Linked DNA regions of Homo sapiens: region 1 is linked to region 2. Evidence: fine-mapped expression QTL. A gene starts in region 2. The other region holds a variant in brackets. All regions are shown on one strand. Distances are between the middles of the regions.

Region 1 (4,349 bases), 31 kb before region 2:
GACAGTGATTGGAAATAAACTGAAGCTCGGCCTGGTGATGGGTATCAGAGGAAAGCAAGAGCGCCTTAGCAACATAATTAACAAAGGCTCTAATCTAGTCTTGAGCAAGCATATTTATTAACAAGCTAAATATAGATAGATACTAGTACACAGTAATAACATCAAACATATTAATATGTATATGCTAACATATTGAAATTTATGTACATATACATGTATATCTATCTTTTAGCCATTTTCTCCTTATTGTCTTTATCCCATAGCATTTAAATACTGCCAAATATTATATATTACATGTATATACTACTATTTCATATATATTAGTATACAATACTATTTTATGTAATATATTTAATATTTTATAAAATTGTATATAAATTATCTTATACAATATATGATTGTGTATGTAGTACATGTGGCTTTTTTTTTGAGACAGAGTCTTGCTCTGTCATACAATATATGATTGTGTATGTTAATACATGTGGCTTTTTTTTTTTTTGAGACAGAGTCTCACTCTGTCATACAATATGTGATTGTGTATGTAATACATGTAGCTTTTTTTTTTTTTTTTTTGAGACAGGGTCTTGCTCTGTCACCCAGTCTGGAGTGCAAGGGCGCGATCTCAACTCACTGCAACCTCCACCTCCCAGGTTCAAGCAATTCTCCTGCCTCAACCTCCTGAGTAGCTGGGACTACAGGCACATGCTGCCATGCCTGGCTAATTTTTTGCATTTTAGTAGAGACAGAGTTTGTGTGCCCAGGCTGGTCGGGAACTCCTGAGCTCAGGCAATCTGCCTGCCTTGGCCTCCCAAAGTGCTGGGATTACAGGTGTGACCCACTGCGTCCGGCCAATACGTGTGTATTTTATACTATGGAGGGACCTCATGGGTGCACTGAAGGAAGCATTTAGACCAGTGAATTTTTTTTAACCTTTATCTTAGGTTTGGGGTACAAGTGAAGGTTTGTTAAACAGGTAAAAACGTGTCATGGGGGTTTGTGGTACATAGTATTTCATTACCTGGGTACTAAGCCCAGTACCCAATAGTTATCTTTTCTGCTCCTCTTCCTCCTCCCACCCTCCACCCACAGGTAGGCCCCAGTGTCTGTTGTTTCCTTCTCTGTTTCTTGGTTTCTCTTTTTTACAAGACACAGTTTTACTCTGTCACCCAGGCTAGAGTGCAGTGACACGATCTTGGCTCACTGCAACCACCTCCCAGGTTCAAGTGATTCTTGCACCTCAGTCTCCTGAATAGCTGGGATTACAGGCATGCACCACCAGCCTGGCTACTTGTTGTATTTTTAGTAGAGATGGGGTTTCACACCATGTCGGCCAAGCTGGTCTCAAACTCCTGACCTCAAGTGATTCACCCGTCTTGGCCTCCCAAAGTGCTGGGATTACAGGTGTGAACCACCATGCCAGGCCATTGTTTCCTTCTTTGTGTTCACAAGTTCTCATCATTTAGCTCCCACGTATAAGTGACAACATGCAGTAGTTGGTTTCCTGTTCTTATTTTAGTTTGCTAAGGATAATGGACTCCAGCTCCACCCATGTTCTCTCAAAAGACATGATCTCATTTTTTATGGCTGCATAGAATTCCATGGTGTATATATACCATATTTTCTTTATTTAATCTGTCATTGATGGGCATTTAGGTTATTTCCTGTCTTTGCTATTGTGAATAGTGCTGCAATGAACATTTGTGTGCATGTATCTTTATGGTAGAATTATTTTTATTTCTCTGGGTATATAAGCAGTAATAGGATTGCTGGGTCAAATGGTAGTTCTGCTTTCAGCTCTTTGAGGAATCACCATACTGCTTTCCACAATGGTTAAACTAATTTACACTCCCACCAACAGTGTACACATGTTCCTTTTTCTCCACAACCTTGCCAGCATCTGTTATTTTTTTACTTTTTCATAATAGCCATTCTGACTAGTGTGGGATAGTACCTCATTGTGGTTTTGATTTGCATTTCTTTGATGATCAGTGATATTGAACTTCTATTCATATTCTTGTTGGCTGCATGTAGGTCTTCTTTTGAGAAGTGTATGTTCATGTCCTTTGCCCACTTTTTCATGTGGTTGTTAGTTTTTCTCCTGTAAATTTGTTTAAGTTCCTTATAGATGCTGGATACTAGACCTTTGTCAGATGCATAGTTTGCAAGTATTTTCTCCCATTCTGTAGGTTGGCTATTTACTCTGTTTATAGCTTCCTTTTCTGTGCAGAA[G/T]TTCTTAAGTTTAATTAGATCTCACTTGTCAATTTTTGCTTTTAGTTGCAATGGCTTTTGGTGTCTTTGTCATGAAATCTTTGCCTGTTCTTATGCCCAGGATAGTATTGCCTAGGTTGTCTTCTAGGGTTTTGATAGTTTTGAGTTTTACATTTAAGTCTTTAATCCATCTTGAGTTGATTTTTGCATATGGTCTAAGGAAAAGGTCTAGCTTCAATCTTCTGCATATGGCTAGCCAGTTATCTCAGCACCTTTTATTTAACAGTGAGTCTTTTCCCCATTTCTTGTTTTTGTCAGCTTTGTCAAAGATCAGATGGTCATAGATGTGCAGCCTTATTTCTGGGCTCTCTATTCTGTTCCACTTGTCTATATGCCTGTTTTTATACCAGTACCGTGCTGTTTTGCTTACTGTAGCCTTTGTAGTATAGTTTGAAGCTGGGTAACATGATGCTTCCAGCTTTGTTCTTTTTTCTTATGACTGCCTTGGCTATTCAGGCTCCTTTTTGGTTCCATATAAATTTTAAAATAGTTTTTTCTAGTTCTGTGAAGAATGTCTTTGGTAGTTTGATACAGATAGCACTGAATCTGTAAATTGCTTTGGAGAGTATAGCCATTTTAATGATATTGATTCTTTTTATCCATGAGCATGGGATGTTTTTCCATTTGTTTGTGTCTTCTCTGATTTCTTTGAGCAGTGTTTTGTAATTCTCTTTATAATTTGTAATTGAACAATATTTTGCCAATTCTTTCACCTCCCTGGTTAGCTATACTCCTGTGTATTTTATTCTTTTTGTGGTAATTGTGAATGGGATTGTCTTTCTGATTTGGCTCGAGATTTGGCTGTTGTTGGTATATAGGAAAGCTCAGGATTTTTGTACATTGATTTTTGTATCCTGAGACTTTGCTGAACTTATTTATCAGCTGGAGGAGCTTTTGGGCCAGGACTATGAGGTTTTCTAGATATGGAATCATGTCATCTACAAACAGAGATATTTTGACATCCTCTCTTCCTTCTTGGATGCCCTTTATTTCTTTCTCTTTCCTGATTGCTCTGACTAGGACTTCCAAATTTACATTGAATAGGAGTGGTGAGAGAGGGCATCCTAGTCTTGTGCTGGTTTTCCAGGGGAATGCTTCCAGCTTTTGCCCATTCAGTATAATGTTGGCTGTTGGTCTGTCACAGATAACTCATTATTTTGAGGTATGTTCTTTCACTACCTAGTTTACTGAGAGTTTTTAACATGAAGGAGTGTTGAATTTTATCAAAATCCTTTTCTACATCTATTGACATAATCATGTGGTTTTTGTCTTTAGTTCTGTTTATGTGATGAATCACATGTATTAATTTGCATATGTTGAACCAGACTTGCATCCTGGAGATGAAGCCTACTTGATCGTGGTGGATAAGCTTTTTGATGTGCTGCTGGATTTGATTTGCCAGTATTTTATTGAGGATTTTTGCATCCGTGTTCATTAAGGATATTGGCCTGAAGTTTTCTTTTTTTGTTGTGTCTCTTCCAGTTTTTGGTATGAACATCATGCTGGCCTCATAGAATGAGTTGGGGAGGAGTCCCTCCTCCTCGATTTTTTAGAATGGTTTCTGTAGGAACGGTACCAGCTCTTCTTTGTACATTTGGTAGAATTCAGCTGTGAATCTGTCTGGTCCTGGTCTTTTTTTTTTTTTTTTTTTTTTTTTGGTTAGTAGGTTATTTATTACTGATTCAATTTCAGAGCCCGTTATTAGTCTGATCAGGGAATGAATTTCTTTCTGGCTCAGTCTTGAGAGAGTGAATGTGTTTAGGAATTTATCCATCTCTTTTAAGTTTTCCAGTTTTTGTATTTTATATGTAATTCTATATTATATGTATAGGATACTAAGGAGGGACCTGATAGAAACACTGAAGGAAGCATTCTAACCAACAGATTTCAAAAAAAAAATTTTTTTTAGACAGGGTCTCATTCTGTCCTCCAGGATGACTGCAGTGCTGCAATTATAGCTCACTGCAGCCTCAAACTCCCTGGTCAAGCAATATTCCCACCTCAGCCTCCCAAGTAGCTGGGACTATAGGCATGCACTACCATGCCTGGCTAATTTTTTTTTATTTTTTTGTAGAGGCCGG
Region 2 (4,400 bases):
TTCTGTTAAGCCACCTTGTAAGTTCTTTGTGCTTTTCTTAGCTATTATTCAAGCACAACAATGATCATATTGCAATTAATGTCATTGTGGATTTGAACATGGAAGGTCTATTTTATCCTAGATTGTAAATTGGTTAAGAGCAGAGATCATGACTGTTTTACTCTCAATTACATATGTCAACTAACACCATGCCTGGCACATAGAAGGCACTCTAGGAATATATGTGGAGTCACACACACACATACACATACTTATGCATACACACTCATACACTTACCCATGAAGATTTCTTCCAGTAAATGGGTATCTGTATTATGCAAGCAACATGAAATCAGAAAGAACATTTTGGGGTTTTTGCTGCCTAACACCAAAACTAATTGCAGCCACTCTTCAAAAAAATGCAATAACTTTATAAACAGCCACATCCTGATTCTTACGGTTGAAAGCTCTCCATTCTCTGCTGAATATTCATCCGTTGAGAGGGACACTAGCCTAGAAGCTCAGCACTTTCTGAAAAGAGAAGCAGCAGGAATAGAAGATGTGTGGAGAGGAAAGAAAGTCAAAGGCAGGCTCCTGCAATGCAAAGGTGCCAGGAACAACGGTGCAATCCCAGGCTGTGTAACACAGGATGGAGGAGGGAGATCTCACTTTTATTGTAAATAGCAGAATTCTTTAAAGGTAGCTACATTAGCAATCAGATCTCATAGATGCTGGAAACACAAACACCTCCTTTCTCATTAAGGGTAGGGGGATCCAGCATAATTTCTCTGGACCAGGAAGATGGAGGAGTCTTACTTCTCTTGCCTTCCAACTGCATCCCCCACTCAATCCTAGATTGCACAAGGAAGTCAACACTACCTCCCCCAACAAGCTCCAAATCCCTCTCTTCACAGCATTGTCAATTGAATCTCTTCATCCAATCTTGGAAACAGTCTGGAAAAAGAAGCAGAGGAGAGAAGAAAGGGGAAAAGTTCAAAAGTACTTTAAACTCTGCCAAAAAAAATCAATTAGTACCAATATACACAGAGAAATGAATGACAGAAGTCATCGCAGCAAGGTATTTCCTCATGACTCCTTCAACTGGCCAGGGCCAAACCAAGGTGTGCAAATAATCTGAGCAACTGTACACTTTGGCACACCTTTGCTATGTATACATACCTTCAATATGTATTTACAGAAGCTGGAAATTGCACAGGGCAGGACCAGGAAAGAACGGGCAGAAATGTTCAACTGCATGGCCAATGTCCTGAGCTTTAGCCCCAGAGTTGTGTGTCCTACTCTGAAGCCCTACAAGTCATAGGACCCATTCACCCCAGAGCCAGTGCAGCCTATTTCTTTGAGATCTCAGTCCCATCTCTCTAATGGTATCAAAGAACCCTCCATTTACATTTAGTGCTCTCTTTGAAAGGAGCCATGATAGACTTTAATCCAAATTTACAAAAAGAAAAACTGGATTCCAAAGAACGATATAATTAGCATAAATACTGGGACTACACACTGCCACATAATAAAACAGAAAGCATCAAAATATATAATTGTGTATAGCACCTATACACTAGCATAGGTCAAACAGCTGAATGATTAAAGGAGTTTTGTTTTGTTTTGTTTTAATCAGTCAACTAGGAACTTCTTAATGCAGTCACTTTGGCATGATACAAACAAAATCTTTCAAACTACAACACATCTTAGAAACAGCAAATACTACTGCTGTTCACGTAGCAAGGAAGGTTACAAGTAAATCTCCCAATATCTCAGGTGTAAAGAAGTGTTCTAACAAGGTCCATTTGTATTAAATCAAATCACCAGACTAAGGCATCTATTTTGCACCACTTACTCAGAGCAACAGACAAAAAGACAGGCCTTTGGGTTTATTTATATAAACATTCTTCCACAGGTAGTCACAGAGGAGGAAGGAGTACAATGTAATTTGATGGTGGATGAATTTGCACAAAAAGGAGACTAAAAAAGAAAGATTATTGTGACCCAACACTCACTCTTTACTTTTTAAAGTTGTGGGGAAAAGAAATGGCAAAGCTTTCTATTTCTGTAAGCTTTTGTTGTAAAGAATTGAATAAAAAATAGCAATACCTAATCATCTCTAAATTACTTCAACTAAAAACACCACTAAAGACCTTATAATCTTTTTTTAAAAAATTCATTCTCATAATTTCTTCCTTGGCCCTGAAAACGATGGTTTAAAAATAGCTTGATTTGCATCTTATTCTTTTACTGCCTTTCTACAAATACATTTTGAAATGCTTGCTTACGGAAAAGCTGTTGCCTGCTTAGCTTTCATCATGTATGAGATCACACTATTTCGCTCACCTGGAACTGTCGTGTTCTCTGTTCCCAGCAACGGTCCGATAAGGAGCATCCTTGCTAAATGATATGTTTAAAGTATGTATAGCTACGTGTATTTTCAAATGCATAACCAATTTCTTAAAAGAGATGGTAACTCATGCCAGAAGCAAGGAAAAGATTGAAAGGCAGGCCTGGAAACAGAGCTGGCCCAGTAGCAGCTCCAAATATGTCAAAATGCTAGTGTTATTTAAGACACCGATACAATATCCCTGATGATGAAACAGGAAACGTTCCCTTGCGCCACCCGCAGGGTGTGCAACAGGAGGAGTGGCTCGCTTCTTCCGTGCCCCACTGCTCAAACCTCTAGGGGAGCATGCGGACGGCTGGGTTGTGGGGCTCCAACCCAAGAGCAGTGTCTAGGGGTGAATGTTTACAGCTGAAGCCCCAGTGGGCACACGTGTGTTACAGGGTGCTCTTTTAGTTTTGCCATCTGTAGGCGACTTGTGTTAGTCAGCTCAATTAGACCCCCTGGCTTATCTCAAGGACAGAGGACTTTCTGTATCCCAGGGTCCTTGCCTTGGTGTACCGGAAGAATCAGATCACACGTGGGCTTGGAGAATGAGTTCAAGGTTTTATTGAGAGGAAGTAGCTGTGAGCAGACAGGGGAGACAGAAGGGAGATGGAGTGGGAAGGTGTAGTTTCCTGGAGTCAGGCCACCTAGCGGCCTGGCTCTCCTCCAACCACGCAGCCAAACTCCATGTCCTTCCGCCAGTCGATGGCCTGCCAGGGTCTGCCTGTCGGCGTGCTCTTGTTGACGTCCTCTGGACGTCCAGCCGCTTGTGTGAGTGCCCACTAGTGTTTCGGGGTTTTTATAGGCACAGGATGGGGGCGTGGTGGGCCAGGGTGGTCTTGGGAAATGCAACATTTGGGCGCAAAGGCAGGAGTGCCTGCCCTTACCTAGGTCTGTGGGCACAGGCACCGGGGTGAAGCCCTCGCCAGAGACCTGCTTTCTCCTCCCAGCACTTCCCTGCCCCCCTCCCTTATCAATAACATCTGCATTTGTAGCTGGGTAACCAGGGTATTCTTCATACAGCTGCAAGTATCTGGCTAATATATTGATAGGGTTTGGATCTGTGTCCAGGCCCAAATCTCACGTTGAATTGTAATCCCAGTGTTGGGGGTAGGGCCTGGTGAGAGGTGATTGGATCATGGAGGAGGATTTCTCATGAATGGTTTAGGACCATCCCTTTGGTGCTGACGGCAAGACAGTGAGTGAATTCTCAAGAGAGAGTTCTGGTTGTTTAAGAGTGTGTGGCACCTTGCTCGCTCTCTCTTTCTTGCTCCTGCTTCAGTCACATGAGGTGCCTGCTCTCATTTCACCTTCCACCATGAGTCAAAGTTCCCTGAAGCCTCCACAGAAGTAGACCCAATATGTTTCCTGTACAGCCTGCAGAACCGTGAGCCAATTAAAGCTCCTTTCTTATAAATTACACAGTCTCAGGTATTTCTTTATAGCAATGCCAGAACAGCCTAATACATACATTATGTCTTCAAGTGGGGGTGAAGACATGCTGAACATTTACTTCTTGAAATATCCACTATATGATAGTCAGGGTGTTGTATGTTTAAAGCATGTATGTGTATAGCTTACGTTATTAAAAATTATTGTTTTAGAATAGAAAAAGGAAGAGTGATAAAATATTAGGCTGAACCATATGAAATTGCTGATATTTTATAACTTTTAGTCAACAAAATTCTCAAATGAGAGCTTTGGGTCCAATAAGTTTGCTTTGCCCCAGGCAACTTGCCCCACTAGTGTAATTCGGGGTCAAGCCATGTGCAAGACTATCAGACAGTTTGCACATCCAAGCATGACCACTCCATGCTCTATTATGCTAAGACAGTCTCTGTAACTTTTCTGCTTTGAGTTAAGTTACATAAGTCCTCTTTCTGTTACCCAACATTTGTGGGTGCCAGGTCCCTGAAAGGAAGCTATAGGAGCAGGTAAAAATTCTTTCCATATTTATTTGTGTGGAATTTTTACTTTTTGACTGTATACCAGATGTAAGGAAGTGTTCTTGCTCTAGGGCCATCTGTCA

Evidence for each region. PIP is the estimated chance that this variant, and not a neighbour inherited with it, causes the effect. A credible set is the group of variants that fine-mapping cannot tell apart.
Region 1: its variant is the best candidate, but not a certain one, in a credible set for the expression of LINC02218 in whole blood (TOPMed, PIP 0.61).

The regions. Positions count from the first base shown.
Region 1 is chr5:17,472,895-17,477,243 of GRCh38, reverse strand. The region is part of intron 1 of LINC02218 (long intergenic non-protein coding RNA 2218); the gene reads right to left. Among named protein-coding and RNA genes, the nearest start is that of H3Y2, 17 kb to the left of the region's middle. The variant G/T (reference allele first, on the strand shown) is at 2,230.
Region 2 is chr5:17,442,160-17,446,559 of GRCh38, reverse strand. LINC02218 (long intergenic non-protein coding RNA 2218) reads right to left here and starts at 2,550. Exons shown (of 3, transcript NR_134270.1): 1 at 2,326-2,550.